2 separate regions of the Homo sapiens genome follow, and region 1 is linked to region 2. Evidence: fine-mapped expression QTL. A gene starts in region 2. The other region holds a variant in brackets. All regions are shown on one strand. Distances are between the middles of the regions.

Region 1 (4,385 bases), 490 kb before region 2:
CTGTATACTTAGGCTATACTAAATTTATTTAAAAATTTTTCTCCAATAATAAATTAACCTTAGCTTACTTAACTTTTTAACTTTATAAGCTTAAATTTTGTTTAACTTTATAAATTTTGTTTAACTTTTATAATAACACTTAGCTTAAGATACACTGTACACTATTTCAAAATATTTTTTCTTTGGGCCAGGCACGGTGGCTTATGCCTATAATCCCAGCACTTTGGAAGGCCAAGGTGGGTGGACCACTTGAGGCCAGGAGTTTGAGACCAGCCTGGCCAACATGGAAACCGTGTCTGTACTAAAAATACAAAAATTAGCCAGGCATGGTGGCGCATGCCTATAGTCCCAGCTACTCAGGAGGCTGACGTAGGAGAATCATTTGAACCTGGGAGGCGGAGGTTGCAGTGAGCTGAGATCATACCACTGCACTCCAGCCTGGGTGACAGAGCGAGACTCTGTCTCAAAAAAAAAAAAAAAATTGTTTTTTCTTTGTGTCTTTATGCTACAAATCTTTCCCTATTTAAACAAAACTTTTTTTTTTATAAACTTTTTTGTTAAAAACGAAGACACAAACACACATATTACTAGTCCTAACCCCTGGTACATGTGAATGTGACCTTATTTGGAAATAAAGTCTTTGTAGATGTAATCAAGTTAAGATGAGGTCATTAGAGTGGGCCCTAATCCAGTATGACTGGTGTCCTTATAAGAAAAAGCACCATGTGAAGACAGGGACAATGATGACAAAGGCCTACACAGGGTCAAGAATATCAATATCACGGTCTTCCACCTCCACATCCTGTCCCAGTGGCAGGTCTTCAGGGGCAGTAACACACATGGAGCTGTCATCTCCTAAGATAACAATGCCTTCTTCTGGTATACCTCCTGAAGGACATGCCTGAGGCTGTTTTACAGTTTTTTAAAAAATAAGTAGGAGTACACTTTAAAGTTATGGTAATAGTACAGAAAATGCACAAACCAGTAACTCAGTAGTTTATCACCAAGTATTATGTACTATACATAATTGTATGTGCTATACTTTTATGACTGGCAGTGCAGTAGGTTTGTTTACACCAGCATCACCACAAACACGTGAGTAATGCCTTGCGCTGTGATGTCACAATGGCTATGTCACTAGGTAACAGGAGTTTTTCAGCTCCATCATAATCCTATGAGACCAGTGTTGTTTGTGCAGTCCATTGTTGACCAAAACATCATTATATAGCACATGACTATATCCATTTCCCATGCACACTACTTTCTTCAAGAATATCTAAGAATTTATATAAGCTACAGCAATATATATTGCAAACTCAAGGACCTCTTTTCTCCACCCATGTCATGTAGTAATATTTTTATAAGTAATAGAACAATATTAAATATAAACAAACAACAACACACATATATATACACATATAATATATATATAAATTGTGTCTATATGTATATATTTAGAGGGAGGGAGGGGGAGAGAGAGAGCAAGAGAGTAAGAGAAGAGAAAAAATATGAGAATGCTAAGCTTCAAGGCGGCCAGAGCTTTTGTTTTATTCACTGCTGTAATCTCTGTGCCAAGAACAAGGTCTAGATAGAATCAACAATAACAACTTCTTGAATGAAGGAATAAATATTTACTACTGAAAGACAGAAAGTAGTAAAATTGTATAGATATCTATAATAAGGAAAGAAATTGAATTAGTATTTTAAAAAATTCCCACAAAGAAAACCCAGGACCAGATGGCTTCACTGATGAATTCTACCAAATGTTTAAAGAAGTATTAATACCAATCCTTTGAAAACTTTTCCAAAAAATAGAACAGGAGGAAGGAATGCTTCCCAACTTGAATTCAATGGAGCCAATATTACCTAAATACTAAAACTAGACAAAGACATAAAAAGAAAACTAGAGACTGTCTTTTATGAATACAGATGTGAAAATCTACACAATATGCTAGCAAACCGAATCCAGCAACATATAAAAAAGGATTATACACCACAACAAGGTGGGATTTATTCCAGGAATGCAAGGTTGGTTTAACATCTGAAAATCAATCAATGTAATATACCATGCCAATGGAATAAAGGGGGAAAAAAGCTCACATAATCACCTTAATAGATGCAGAAAAAACATTTGATAAAACCAAACACCTTTCCATAATAATAATACTCAATGAACTAGAAACAGAAGAGAACATCCTCAACCTGACAAAGGAAAGGGCATCTTTGTAAAAGAGCTAACATCATACTTAATGATAAAAGACTGGAAATTTCTCCTGTAATATCAGGAACAAGACAAGGATTTGCGTTCTTGCCATTTCTTTTTTTTTCTTTTTCTTTGTGTCTTTTTTTTTTTTCCCAGACAGGGTCTTCCTTTGTCACCCAGGCTGGAGTGCAGTGGCACAATCTCGGCTCACTGCAGCCTTGACCTCCCAGGCTCAAGTGATCCTTCCACCTCAGTCCCCCAAGTAGCCAGGACTACTATTTTTCATAGAGACAGGGTTTTGCCATGTTGCTCAGGCTGGTCTCAAACTCCTGAGCTCAAGTGACCTGCCTGCCTTGGCCTCCCAAAGTGATGGGATTACAGGTGTGAGCCACTGCACCTCACCCATTTCTATTCTACGTTGTACAGGAGGTTCTAGTCAGGGATATTAGGAAAGAAAAAGAGATAAAGACATCCAGATTGTAAAGAGGAAAGTAAAACTATCTCATCATTCACAGATAATATAATCGTGTATATTGAGAAGCGTAGCGAATCCACACACAAAAAAAC[T/C]ATTAGAATGAATATACCAGTTCAGCAAGTTTACAGGATACAAGATCAACATACAAAAACCAATTCATTTCTATACATTATAAATGAATGATCCAAAATAAAATTAAGAAGACAATTCTATTTACAACACCATCAAAAAGGATAAAGTAACCAGAAATAAACCTAACAAAACTAGTGTAAGACTTGTACTTTGAAAACTATAAAACATCGCTGAAAGAAACTAAAAAGCAAATGGAAAGATATCTTATGCTCATGGATCAGAGACTTTATATTGTTAAAAGGGAAATATTCCCAAAATTGATCTACAGATTTAATGTAATCCCTATCAAAATTCCAGTTAGACTTCTTGCAGAAACTGGCAGGCTCATCCTAAAATTCATATGGAAATAGAAGAAACCTAGAGTGGTCAAAGTCTTTAAAAAGAATAAAGTTGGAAAAGTTACACTTTCCAACTCCAACTTATTACAAAATTATAGTAATCAAGAGTACGTGGTACTGGCGTAAGAATAGAAATATAGATGAATGAAATATATTTGAGAGCGCAGAAGTGAACACTTATATTTAAGGCCAACTGATTTTTGACAAGATTGCCAAAACAATTCAACAGGGAAAGAACAGTTTCAAGCAAAATAATGCTATTGAATCCCTACCTCACACTATACACAAAAATTAACTAAAAATGTATGAAAAATTTAAATATAAGAGCTAAAACTAAAAACTCTTAGAAAAAACGTAGGAATAAATCTTTGCAACCTTGGGTTAGGTAATGGTTTCTTAGATATGATACCTAAAGTATAAGTAACAAAAGAAAAAGTAGATTGGAAGTCAATAAAAATTATAAACTTTTATGCTTCAAAGGACATCTTTAAGAAAGTAAAAAAGACAACTCACAGAATGGGAGAAAATATGTTCAAATTACATATCTGATAAGAGACTTATATTCAGAATATATAAGGAACTCTTTTGAAAAAGATAAATAACCCAAGTAAAAATGGGTAAAAGATTTGCATAGCTATTTCTTCAAAGAAGATATATAAATGGCCAGTGTGTGTGGAAAGATGTTTGGCATCATCACTCATGAGGTAAATGCAAACTGAGACATCATTTCACATCTACTAGGTTAGCTGTAATAAAACACACAGGCAAGTGTTGGTGAGGATGTGGAGAAATTCAAATGCTTATACATTGCTAGTAGGAATCTAAAATGGTGCCACCATCTTGGAAAATATTTTGGTAGTTCCTCAAAAAGTTAAACATACAGTTACTATTTGACCCAGCATTTCGACTCCTGGGTATATACCCAAGACAACTGAAAACATGTCCACCAAAACTTTATATGCAAATGTTCATAAGCAGCAGCATTTATAATAGCCAAAAAGTAGAAACAAACCAGATGTCCATCACCTGATGAATGGATAAATTAAATGTGGTACACCCATACAATTGACTATTATTCAGGCATAAGAGGAGTGAAGTACTGATGTATGTATGCTAAAACATGGAAAAACCTTGAAAACATGGAAAAACCTTGAAAACATTATGCTAAGTGAGAGAAGTCAGTCAAAAATGACCACATATTATATGATTCCACTTATATGAAATTTCCAGAAATATA
Region 2 (4,364 bases):
CAGAGGCGTGAGGATTTTGAGCTCCTCCCTGGCTTATACAAGGACAAAGGGTCTGGGAGCAGCTGGCCCTCTTCTCCTCACTGACACTCTGCGCTGGATCTGGGGAAGCCCCAGGCTCTCTGCCGCCTGGGTGTCCCGGCTCATTGCTCCCTGGGCATGGGAGGCACCAGTGCTGAAGCCACTGGCATAATGACCAACAGGGTTGAGCCCAGAGCCGCGGGCCAGGCTGGGCTATGCGCCCTCTGGCTGCCCAAACCAAGCAGAGGACTGAGGGAGGGCTGGGCGAGCAGGAAGGGGCTGTCCAGATGCCACAGCCCCTACCTCAGGGCCTCCTGCACTCCCACCCGCTCAGGGCAGAGCTCTTCCCATCCTCTCAGGCCCCCTTCTGCCCCACCCCAACCCCAAGGCCTCTGAGAACAAAGAGGAGGTGCAGGCACAGTCAGGCTGGACCAGGCTGGGCTGCGACCCCAGCAGGAACCGGGAGGGGCTGCCCACTGGCCTGGCCCCACCCCTCCTTCTCAAAGTGGGATCCGCCCGGAGGGTCACATCTCCTGGCATGCCTTGAGAGCAGAGAGCCCACAGCCCACCCCGAAAAGGGTGTGAGGGGGAGCAGGAGGCTCCCTCCTTACCTCCCTCTTCTCAGCTGGTTCCCACCTCCCACCCGCTCTGCCTTAGAATGAAAAGTGGGGCAAGAGGAGGTGAGAAGCCCGGGCTGAACGCAGACAAAGGGGAGGCCCCTAAAGCGTTCCTGGGCGCTCCCGGTCCCCAACTCCCTTCCTTCCACTCTCCCTACTCCCCATCTCCTTTTCACTGGGCAGGAGCTGGAAAGGGGCGATGCTTGTGTGTGGTGGGGAGCTGCCATCCAGGCTGGAGCTTGTGGAGAAACCCAGCCCCTGACCTGTGTCCACCAGCTAGGGAGTGTCTGGTGCTGGTGGGGGCTGCCTGGGGGTACCTGGGGTCCACGAAGGGAGGTACCCACCCAGGGCTGAGCAGGGGGCTTACCCTCTAGAGTGACCAATACTCAGAATGGGAGGGGGGACAGGAAGGGGAGACCAGAGCAGGTCTGGGACACCCGTGGGGGCCCCTCCCCAGCTCCAGGCTCCCAGCTTACAAACCCGGAATTTGTTGGGGTTGGAGAGAGGGGAGGTGGAAAAGGAAGAATTTTCATTTCTGAGGCTTGAGGGGAAATCAGGCCTATGACCCCAAAGGAGGTCTGGGTGGCACCGAGGTGCCCTGCAACCCCAGGAGGGCGCAGCCAGGGCCGATGGCGGCCCCCAGGGGCACTCGCCGCGGGGCTGCCCGCTCGGGGCTCGGCCGCGGCCGCCTGGCTCACCTGCATCTCGGGCGCGCCTTCGGTCCGCTCGGCTCGGTCACCAATCGCATGTCTCTCCAGCCGGCCCGACCAGGCCCCAGCCCCTGCCCAGCCCCCTCCTCCGTTTCCTCCTCCTCCGACACCTCCGCCCGGCAGTCCGCGCGCCCTCGCGGGGCTGGCTGTCCGTCTGTCCGCCCCGCGCGGGCGGGAGCCGAGCCGGAGCCGGGGCCGGGGCTCGGGAGTGGGGAGGCGGGAGGCCGCGGCCCCGGCGGGCGGATGGGCGGGCGCGCTCAGGCCGCGGGACAGGGGCTGCGCGAGCCTGCTTCTGCCCCCTGGGCCGGCCCGGAGCCGCCGCCGCCGCCTCTGCCGCTGGGGCCGGGGTCGAGGCCGGGCGCGCTCCGCCGCGGGGCCGGGGCCGGCGGGCAGCGGCCGCGCATGCTGCTCGGCGCCCCGCGTCGGGAGAGGGGCCGGAGCGGCGCGGGTGGGGACTCCGCGCCCTCCGGGGCCGGGACCAGGACCCACCGCCGCCGCCGCCGCCTGCGCTGTCGCCCGCCGCCCGCTCCGGCTCCCGCGCCGGCTCCCGCTCGGGCTCCGCGCTCTGCAGCGGCGCGGGGAGGGAGCACTAGGAGCGAGCCAGGGAGGGAGGAGGGATCGAGGGAGGAGGGAGCGAGTGAGCCGCGGGAGCCGGGCGGGGGAGGAGAAGGCGCGGCCGCAAAACCTGGTGATGGTGGTGGTGGGGTGGGGGGTGGTTCGTCTCCTTTCAGCGGAGGGGGCGGAGAGCGAGGGGCGCCCCAGCCGCTGCCCTGCACGCTTAGGGCAGCGAAACAGGCAGGGGTGCGCAGGCGAGGGGCGCACCAGCCAGGCGCTCCAGCTCTGCACACGGCCGCGCCCCTCCGGGTCCGGGGCTCTGGGCGAGTCCCGGGCCAGCCGGGTGTCGGGGAGTCCGGCGTGCGGTCCTCCCTGGGTGTATGCGCGCACACCGTTGTGTGTGATTTTTGTGTTGCCACATGCGTGTGCATGTGAGCGCGCGAGTGTGTTTACACGTGTTAACTGGGCTGTGGACGAACACACGCACGAGGACGGACAGGGCTCCCTACACGAACAGGGTTGTTTGGAGGGCGGCATGGGGAGGCCGACCGGGAGCCCCCGTCCTGGCCCTGTCCCCTCCTCTCGAAAGTCCGCGAGGCTAGAGGGCCCACATTCTAGCGCGGGAGGGCGAGGCAGGCAGAATGGGAAGCTCCAGGGGACGGCGAGGAAGCCGCGCTGGCCCGGCAGCTCTACCCAGGAGCCGGGGTCCCCGCCCAGCCTGGCTTCCTGTCCAGCAGAGGGCGGCAGGCCTCTCTGGCCCGCTCCGTCCGGAGGCCCTGCACCCAGTGGCCAGCAGAGGGCAGCGCAGAGCCTCCGCCTGGGCTTGACTGTTCCCTCCTCCCGGAATGGTCCCGGGGATCCTCGGCTGGGGCCACAACTTCAGACGGGCCCAAGGAATGGGACCTCTCCTCGGAGATCCAGATCCTCCTTGATCCTCAGATACAGAAACTAGGCCAGCAGGGATGTCTTGGCAAAGCCTGCAGAGTAGGTTACCACCCTCAGGACCTCACCTTTTTCCCTATACTACCCCCTCCATCTCCTTGAAGCCAGACGCCCTTTACCACCAAGCCAGTTTTATTAGAATAACCATCAATGCTGACACCGCCCGGCACGGCCATCCCTCCTCCCCTGCTGGGAACAACCCATTAGCACATGAATACTCCTAATAGCTTGAGTCCACAGGGGCAGCTGAGGCTGGGGGAGGGGATCTAGCCCAAAGCCTCTCGGATTCTGGGGCAGACGCTGGAATCCCAGTTCCAGTGACACCCCCTCTCCCAGGAAGCCTGCGCAACATCATTGCAGAGATGCCTGGTTGCCACGGAGGGACCTCTCCCCACCCCCAACAGCACCTTGTTTCTCGCTGTTCAGCCTCACACACAGCCCAAAGGCTTGCACAGACCTTCTGTTCCAGCTGCACCATTTCTGGGTACTTCTCAGTCTCTCTGGCACACCGTTGCTCTGGACAGTCCTGTCTGGAGCACTTTCTCCTGTCTCCTATGTCTATGCCCATCCTCAACCTAGGCCTAGCTAGAGTCCCTCCTAGCAGGCGTCCATGCTATGCTCTACTGTGAACTGTACGTTCACCCTCCAGCAACTCTGGGGGAGGCACTATTGTTCCCCTGTGACAGAGGGAGGGAAGCCCAGGCCCAGAGAGGTTCCAGGCTCTGCCCATGGTCACACAGCCAGCAAGCCACGGAAAGGGAACTGGACTCGTCTTCTATGGCTGAATGGACCAGCAGGGGGCAGGCTCGGCAGAAGGACTTACAGGTGGGAGGTGAAGCAGGGAGGCCAGCACAGGAGTCCCCCTCCCTGCCAGAGCCCAGCGCAGGCGACTCCCCGGTCCCTCAACTCCGCGCTGCCTGGACCCCTCCCCAGACTCCCCAGCCCCCCCACCCCGGCTGTTTGTGAGCTACCCGTGCGCTCCCGCCCTCCCGCGCCGCCTCCTCCCACCAGCCCGACAGGAATAGACGCTCGCTGGCTCCTGCGTAAAGGCTCCGCCAGGCACCCGGCGGGCGCGCAGACCCGCTGGGGGGCGGGGGCGGGGGCGAGGGCTATTCCTGGTGCGGTGACTGACGCAGGCAAGGCGCGGCCACCACATCTCTCCGCCCCCGACTCACCTGCTCCCTGCCTCAGTGATCTCGGCGGAGAAATGGGGGAGAGCCCACTCATTCCACCCCGCTAACCCCCAGGTGCTACCGGAGGAAGCTGGGGTCCTAGGGTGGGGTATTTTGGTGCCCACAATGATCCCTCCGCGCCTCGGAGGCAGCAGGGATGACCACGGAGCTGTGTCTGGGAGGAAGAGCCCCTTGGCCTCGGTTCTCCACTGTCAATGGCATCCAAGCCATTCCCCTTTCCCTTTGTCTCCAAAAGACATGACCCCTCCCAGCTCTCCCTGTTTTATTCCAATGGAAACGACGGGGAGCTTTGGGGGAACAACTTGGAGGATAGGCCTTTTTGAGGGTCT

What was found.
Region 1: its variant is fine-mapped to the expression of LINGO1 in hypothalamus (GTEx, PIP 0.98).

Annotation. Positions count from the first base shown.
Region 1 is chr15:77,138,397-77,142,781 of GRCh38, forward strand. The region is part of intron 8 of PEAK1 (pseudopodium enriched atypical kinase 1); the gene reads right to left. Among named protein-coding and RNA genes, the nearest start is that of TSPAN3, 69 kb to the left of the region's middle. The variant T/C (reference allele first, on the strand shown) is at 2,771.
Region 2 is chr15:77,630,977-77,635,340 of GRCh38, forward strand. LINGO1 (leucine rich repeat and Ig domain containing 1) reads right to left here and starts at 1,936. Exons shown (of 2, transcript NM_032808.7): 1 at 1,334-1,936. The coding sequence starts at 1,339. RefSeq lists enhancers at 2,755-3,318, 2,760-2,889.